Linked DNA regions of Homo sapiens. The protein of the gene in region 2 purifies or fractionates together with the protein of the main gene of each other region. This does not show direct contact. Each region holds a gene or a part of one and is shown on either strand. Other genes may lie near its edges.

Region 1 (3,500 bases), on a different chromosome or scaffold from region 2:
TTCATTCTTCTTTACTAATCCATCTAGACAATGATGCAGAACAGCAAGGAGAATTTGGGAACCCAGACCCCCACCTTCAGCAGCTTAGCTTTCATGGTGGATGTGATGGTTGTGGGGTTAATAAACTGGAAGGAAGGGGCGGCGTTGTTTGGGTACTGTGCAGGGAACTTCACCAGCATCTTGACACGATGGTTGCTGCAGTGCACAGACACTGTGCAGCTCCTGTCTGCCGCATCCATCTGCAAGAGACAAATCCACAATTGCTGTAGAAACAAACCATAAAGCGTCTTTCGATGCAAGCACATTTAACTGAACGCTCCATGTTCCTGGTAATTGAATGAAGGGAAAGAGTCTACAAAGACAAATGTGTGTGGAAGACAATTCATTTTCAAAAAGATTCTTAAATTTTCATACCAGATTCTTAAAATTTTCAAACCAATGGAATAAGCTCAAAGTTGCTGAGACCAGCTCGGTCGGGGTGACCCTAAACCAGCAGTGCCAGAAGAATTAAAGACACACACACAGAAATATAGAGGTGTGGAGTGGGAAATCAGGGGTCTCACAGCCTTCAGAGCTGAGAGCCTTGAACAAAGATTTACCCATGTATTTATCCACAGCAAGCCAGTGATAAGCATTGTTTCTATAGATTATAGATTAACTAAAAGTATTCCTTATGGGAAACAAAGGGATGGGCTGAAATAAAGGGATGGGCTGTGGCTAGCTATCTGCAGCAGGAGTATGTCTTTAAGGCACAGATTGCTTATGCTATTGTTTGTGGTTTAAGAACGTGTTTAAGCGGTTTTCTGCCCTGGGTGGGCCAGGTGTTCCTTGCCCTCATTCCGGTAAACCCACAGCCTTCCAGCGTGGGCATCACCACCATCATGAACATGTCACAGTGCTGCAGAGACTTTATGGCCAGTTTTGGGGCCAGTTTATGGCTAGATTTTGGGGGGGGGGGGGGCCTGTTCCCAACATGTCCCCCTTCTTTGATTTGCAAAGTGATAAAAGCAAAGGCAGCTTTGTCACGGTGAGCTACTTCTTGCAGGAGTCAAGATCCACATCTGCAGACTACACAAAGACAAACAACACAGAGGGTCAGTTTATGGCCAGATTTCAGGGGGCCTGTTCCCAACACAAAGTATTCTTTTTTTTTTTTTTTGAGACAGGGTCTCACTTTGTCACCCAGGCTGGAGTGCAGTGTGGCACAATCTCAGCTCACTGCAACCTCCACCTTCTGGGTTCAAGTGATTCTCCCACCTCAACCTCCCAAATACTGGGACTACAGGCCACCATGCCCAGCAAATCTTTGTTTTGTTGTTGTTGTTGTTGTTTTGCTTTTTGTGTTTTGGTAGAGATGGGGTTTCGCCATGTTGGCCAGGCTGGTCTCAAACTCCTGACCTCCAGTGATCCACCCACCTTGGCCTCCTAAAGTGCTGGGATTACAGGCATGAGCCACCACGAAGTTCAAAGTATTCTGACTTTAACAAAGCTTCCTCCCTCCCAAAGCTGTGGGGTAGACTGAAACTTGTTATATTTACTTTGAGATGGGAAAATAAAGCAGGAAGAAGTTAAATACCAGACTCAACTTAAAAAGTGCTCCTGGGAAAATCCATAGGGGAAGAAAGTAGATTCGGGATTGCCACGGGCTGAGGGAAGGGGAAATAGGGAGTGACTGCTCATGGGTATGGGGTTTCTTCTGGGAATGATGAATATGTTCTGGAATCAGACAATGGTAATGGCTGTACAACTTTGTGAATATACCCACAACAGCCAGATTATATACTTTAAAAAGCGGAATTTTGGCTGGGCACAGTGGCTCACGCCTGTAATCCCAGCACTTTGGGAGGCCAAGGTGGGCAGATCAACTGACATCAGGAGTTCGAGGCCAACCTGGCCAACATGGCAAAAACCCCATCTCTACTAAAAATACGAAAAAAAATTAGCTGAGCGTGGTGGCGTGCGCCCATAATCCCAGCTATCTGGGAAGCTGAGGCAGGAGAATCGCGTGAACCCGAGAGGCAGAGCCTGCAGTGAGTCACGGTAGCACCACTGCACTCCAGTCTGAGCGGACAGAGCAAGGCTCCATCTCAATAAAAAAAAAAAGATGAACTTTATACTGTGTGAATTATATCTCAATAATTTTTTTAAAGTACTCTCGAAGAAAGGAATCAAGATCTTAAACTAGATCACTAGGTATCCACACTGTCCTCAAATGGGACAAAGGGAGTATAAACTGACTTGATATAGATCACTAATTAAGCAAAGAATCCTTTATATCTTTTCATTTCTTGTGTTGCCAACTAGAGACAGCAGCTGGAGTAAAGAGAAAAGAACCACATGTGGCAAATCTGGAGACCTGGATTCACATGTTGTTTCTTCCACCAAATAGCTGCTGACCTTGGACATTTCTTCTCTTGATGTCTCCGTTTCCTCAGCTGTAAAGTGAGGCTAAAACCACTTACAGCAGACTATTTTTTTTTTTTTTTTCGAGACGGAGTCTTGCTCTGTCGCCAGGCTGGAGTGTAGTGGTGTGATCTCGGCCTCACTGCAAGCTCTGCCTCCTGGGTTCAAGCGATTCTCCTGCCTCAGCCTCGTGAATAGCCGGGACTACAGGCGCACGCCACCATGACCAGCTAATTTTTGTATTTTTAGTATAGACGGGGTTTTACCATGTTGGCCAAGAAGGTGTCGATCTCTTCACCTTGTGATCCGTCTACCTTGGCCTCCCAAAGTGCTGGAATTACAGGCGTGAGCTACCGCACCTGGCCAGCAGACTTGTTTTAAAAGCCACATGAGATAGTTATGTAACAGCACATATTTGGGTAAAGGAAAAACTAATCAAGCTTTAAAACTCCTTTCTGGAGAGATACTCAATTTTCTGAAGCAAAGACTTTCAATACTTGCCCCCAAAAAAGTAACTGTTCCACAGGCTAAGCAAACAAAGAAGTTTTGGTTGCCTTCTTACTGTGAATCTAAATTACCAGGAAATGGCCAGCCTGTGAGAGAAGATGGCACAGCCCAGCACAGCACAGCACAGCACAGCACAGAGTGCCCTGGACGGGCTGGAGGTTTGGCTTCCCAAGTCAACTCTGTCCCCAACTTCAGCAGCAACCTCTGCCAAATCACTAAGCCTCCAGGGCCTAAGTATCTTCCTCTACAGTAAAATGAGATGCTGGAGCATCTAAGGAGGAGCTAAGGCACACGAGCATCAGGTTCTCCTTTGGCTCATCTTAGGAGAAAAGAATAGGGGTAGAAAGAAAGTCTGCATCTCTTTATTTACTTATTTATTTATTTATTTATTTAATTATTTTATTTATTTTTTTTGAGACAGAGTCTTGCTCTGTCACCCAGGCTGGAGGACAGTGGTGCGATCTTGGCTCACTGCAACCTCTGCTTCTCAAGTTCAAGTGATTCCTGTGCCTCAGCCTCTCGAGTAGTTGGAATTACAGGCTAATTTTTTTTTTTTTTTTTAAGTGGAGACAGGGTTTCACCATGTTGGC
Region 2 (3,500 bases):
AGATTGAGACCTGGCTAACACGGTGAAACCCCGTCTCTAGTAAAAAATACAAAAAATTAGCCGGGCGTGCTGGCGGGTGCCTATAGTCCCAGCTACGTGGGAGGCTGAGGCAGGCGAATGGTGTGAACCCGGGAGGCGGAGCTTGCAGTGAGCCAGAGATCGCGCCACTGCACTCCAGCCTGGGTGACAGAGTGAGACTCCGTCTCAAAAAATAAATAAAATAAATAAATAAATAAATAAATAAATAAAGTATTATGTTCCTCAGTGCTAATAAAAAAACAAAAACTCTGGGCATGGTAGCTCATGCCTGTAATCCTAGCATTTTAGCAGGCTGAGGAGGGTGGAACACTTGGGATCAGGAGTTCAAAACCAGCCTGGCCAACATGGTGAAACCCGGTTTCTACTAAAAATACAAATAATTAGCTGGCATGGTGGCAGGCGACTGTAATCCCAACTACTCCGGAGGCTGAGGCAGGAGAATCTCTTGAACCCGGGAGGCGGAGCTTGCAGTGACTTGAGATCGCACCATTGCACTCTAGTCTGGGCGACAGAGTGAAACTCCTCCTCTGTCTCAAAAACAAAAACAAAAACAAAAAAAACCCAAAAACCAAAGAAACCAAAATGTGCTAGGATTTTTTTTCCTGCTAAACTGCATTTTAAAATAGACATGCAAGGGAGAAAATGACACCATCCATATTGTGTAATAACCTGCCTGTAAGGGAAATGTGCAGCATCCCTGGGAGCACCAGGAAGCTGCAGGTGAGACTGTGTGATACTTAAACTCATGATCAGCCATGTGCACTTTGACAAATGACAGCTGTAACCAATGAAGTGCAGCAATTTTCGGTTCCCCGCATCAATCTGAGTCCCTGATGGGGTCAATGCATTATGACTTAAATGTTTTATGGTCCAGTGGGTACACCTTAGATGGCACTGTGCTCACCTTCTTCATGTCCTCATAGAAGAGATAGAGAATACGGTGTTTGTCTTTGGCTTCCCACCATCCTTTCACATGTTCATGCCAGGAGCCCCAGCACACTGGAGGATGGGATGGAAAACAGGACAATGAGTCACAGAGGTCCTATTATACCACTGAAAGGAGAATTCCTGAAGAGAAGTGAGAATGTTCCATTAAAGAAGGCAGAGCCCCTGCTGGTCAAAAGAAAAGATTCTTTCCTTCTAGGGTGTTTGGAGATTTTGAGAAACGAAGGGAAACAAAGCTAAATTCTCTCACCTTTCCCAGCCAGAAAAGTCTCAAAATACTCTTCCCATGTTCCTGGAGCAGGAAGAGCTTTATTCATTCTTTGGAAATGGTAATAGGACACCATGTTGTCCTTGGGATTTCTTGCTACATAGATTATCTGGGAATGATGAGGGGAGGGGAAGGGAAGAAGCAAAAAAACAGGAATTTTTTTTTTTTTTTTTTGCTGTTACTGCCCAGGCAAGTCATGTTAGGGTAGATACATTTCATACAGTTCATTTTTTCTGAGGCTGCATTCTTGTCATCCTGGTTATGGGAGACTTTTTTTTTTTTTTTTTTTTTTTTTTTTTGAGATGGAGTCTTGCTCTGTCACCCAGGCTGGAGTGCAATGGCACTATCTTGGCTCACTGCAACCTCTGCCTCCTGTGTTCAAGCGAGTCTCCTGCCTCAGCCTCCTGAGTAGCTTGGATTACAGGCATGTGTCACCACGTCCTGTGAATTTTGTGTTTTTGGTAGAGATGGGGTTTCGCCGTGTTGGTCAGGCTGGTCTTGAACCCCTGACCTCAACTGATCCACCCATCTCAGTCTCCCAAAATGCTGTGATTACAGGCATGAGCCAACGTGCCTGGCTAGGATTCATATTAATTTGCATATTGATTATTGTGAAGAGGTATATATATATATATTTAACAAGTGAAGTGTTTTAAGAGGAAATGGAAGACTAAGGTTGTTTTAAGGAGTACAACTCTGAATTCCTTTTGCTTTTTTACCTTACAGTTTTTCTCTAGCAAGGATGGTGGCAGCAAGTGAAAGGGAAGATGTGTTTTCAGGATCCGTGGTGAGGGCATTGCATGAGCTTGTTCCAAACCTGCAAAACTGGTTTTCGATCAATTTCTACGATTTTTTTTTTATCTATTTGCTTCCAAGTCTTGCTGCTTCCATTATTACTACTACAATTCAAAGCATCTATAAGAACATTGTAACTGTAGATCTGGTGTGAGAGAATACGTCTAGCCTATGAATAGATGTTTTGACTAGAACAATTCCTAACCATAACAGTCATCCAAATAAATAAGAACCTAAAAAATTCAAACCCTTTCACCAGGATTATCTTACTTGAGCTTATTCTTTTGAAGTAAAATTAATTTCTAACTAGAGAAACAAAATTTAACTCACTTTTGTACAAACAGTAATTCCATTAGAAAATGTCTGGAGTATAACAATGGCCAGACACAGTTAAAAAAAGACAAAACCATGAAACTTACCAATAATTGTTTGAAAGCCTATAATTTCGAAAGGTGCAAAGACAGTAAAAATCCTAAGTGCATTTTAGGACTGTAGTGAAGTGTGGCTATTTATACTCACCAGATCCTAAGGATGGGATTTTCATTTCGAGGAAAGGAAATCGTTGATGAGTCGGTGCCCGTTTACTTTTCTCCACATCACCTTCATTTTGTATTAATTCCACTATCTCCTGAGTCCATGTTGTTCCTTACGTGCACGTAAAATGAAGATGAATAGACATCTAGTATAGTACATTCCTTAAAATATGATCAAATACTTGTTAGAACATCTATGTCTTTTGTTTTGTTTTGTTTTGTTTTGTTTTTTGAGACAGGGTCTTGCTCTGTATCAAGGCTGGAGTTCAATGGTGCAATCTTGGCTCACTGCCTCCTGGGTTCAAGCGATCCTCTCGCCTCAGCCTCCTGAGTAGCAGGGGTTACATGCATACACAATCACCCCTGGCTAATTTTTATACTTTTTGTAGAGACGGCATTTTACCATGTTGCCCAGGCTGATCTGGAACTCCTGAGCTCAAGTGATCTGCTTGCAAGTGATCTGCTCGCCTCGGCCTCCTAAAATGCTGGGATTATAGGTGTGAGCCACCATGCCTGGACCATCTATGTGAATTTAAAAGCTAGGTTTTAAATGGGATTCAGAAGATAGCATTCCTTATTTATATCTTATTATCATAATATGATTTTAAAAAAATACTCCAATTTTGAATGGACATTAGACTGATAAATATACATTTATTTTTTTCTGTCACAACTATTAATTTGGATTGTTATTATTGTTCTATTTATTTAGCTGTATTGTCCTTAGAAAGGACATTCTCCCCAAATTGTGATCTGCTATAGAGAAATGACTACATGATTTTCAAACTCTCTTTTTCCCAGTTGCATAGCGTAGGAGACACTTAGTATTTGTTGGCTGAATGAGTGAACCATTAGGGCTTGAACTTGATATTGACCATTAGCACTTAGTATTCAATTTTTCGCCTTTCTCTGTTTCCCCC

The links. The genes of interacting proteins can lie anywhere in the genome.
Region 1: the proteins of SULT1C4 (region 2) and WDR59 purify together in Homo sapiens (affinity purification with mass spectrometry; one large-scale study listed by BioGRID and IntAct). This does not show direct contact.

Annotation. Positions count from the first base shown.
Region 1 is NC_000016.10:74,912,124-74,915,623, forward strand, and holds part of WDR59 (GATOR2 complex protein WDR59), read right to left. Parts: intron 240-3,500; coding exon 75-239; coding exon of another isoform or gene 24-74; exon of another isoform or gene 1-23. UniProt on the Homo sapiens protein: As a component of the GATOR2 complex, functions as an activator of the amino acid-sensing branch of the mTORC1 signaling pathway. The GATOR2 complex indirectly activates mTORC1 through the inhibition of the GATOR1 subcomplex.
Region 2 is NC_000002.12:108,380,954-108,384,453, reverse strand, and holds part of SULT1C4 (sulfotransferase 1C4), read right to left. Parts: intron 2,743-3,500; exon of another isoform or gene 2,693-2,742; coding exon 2,567-2,692; intron 2,070-2,566; coding exon 1,972-2,069; intron 1,362-1,971; coding exon 1,235-1,361; intron 1,039-1,234; coding exon 944-1,038; intron 1-943. UniProt on the Homo sapiens protein: Sulfotransferase that utilizes 3'-phospho-5'-adenylyl sulfate (PAPS) as sulfonate donor to catalyze the sulfate conjugation of phenolic compounds.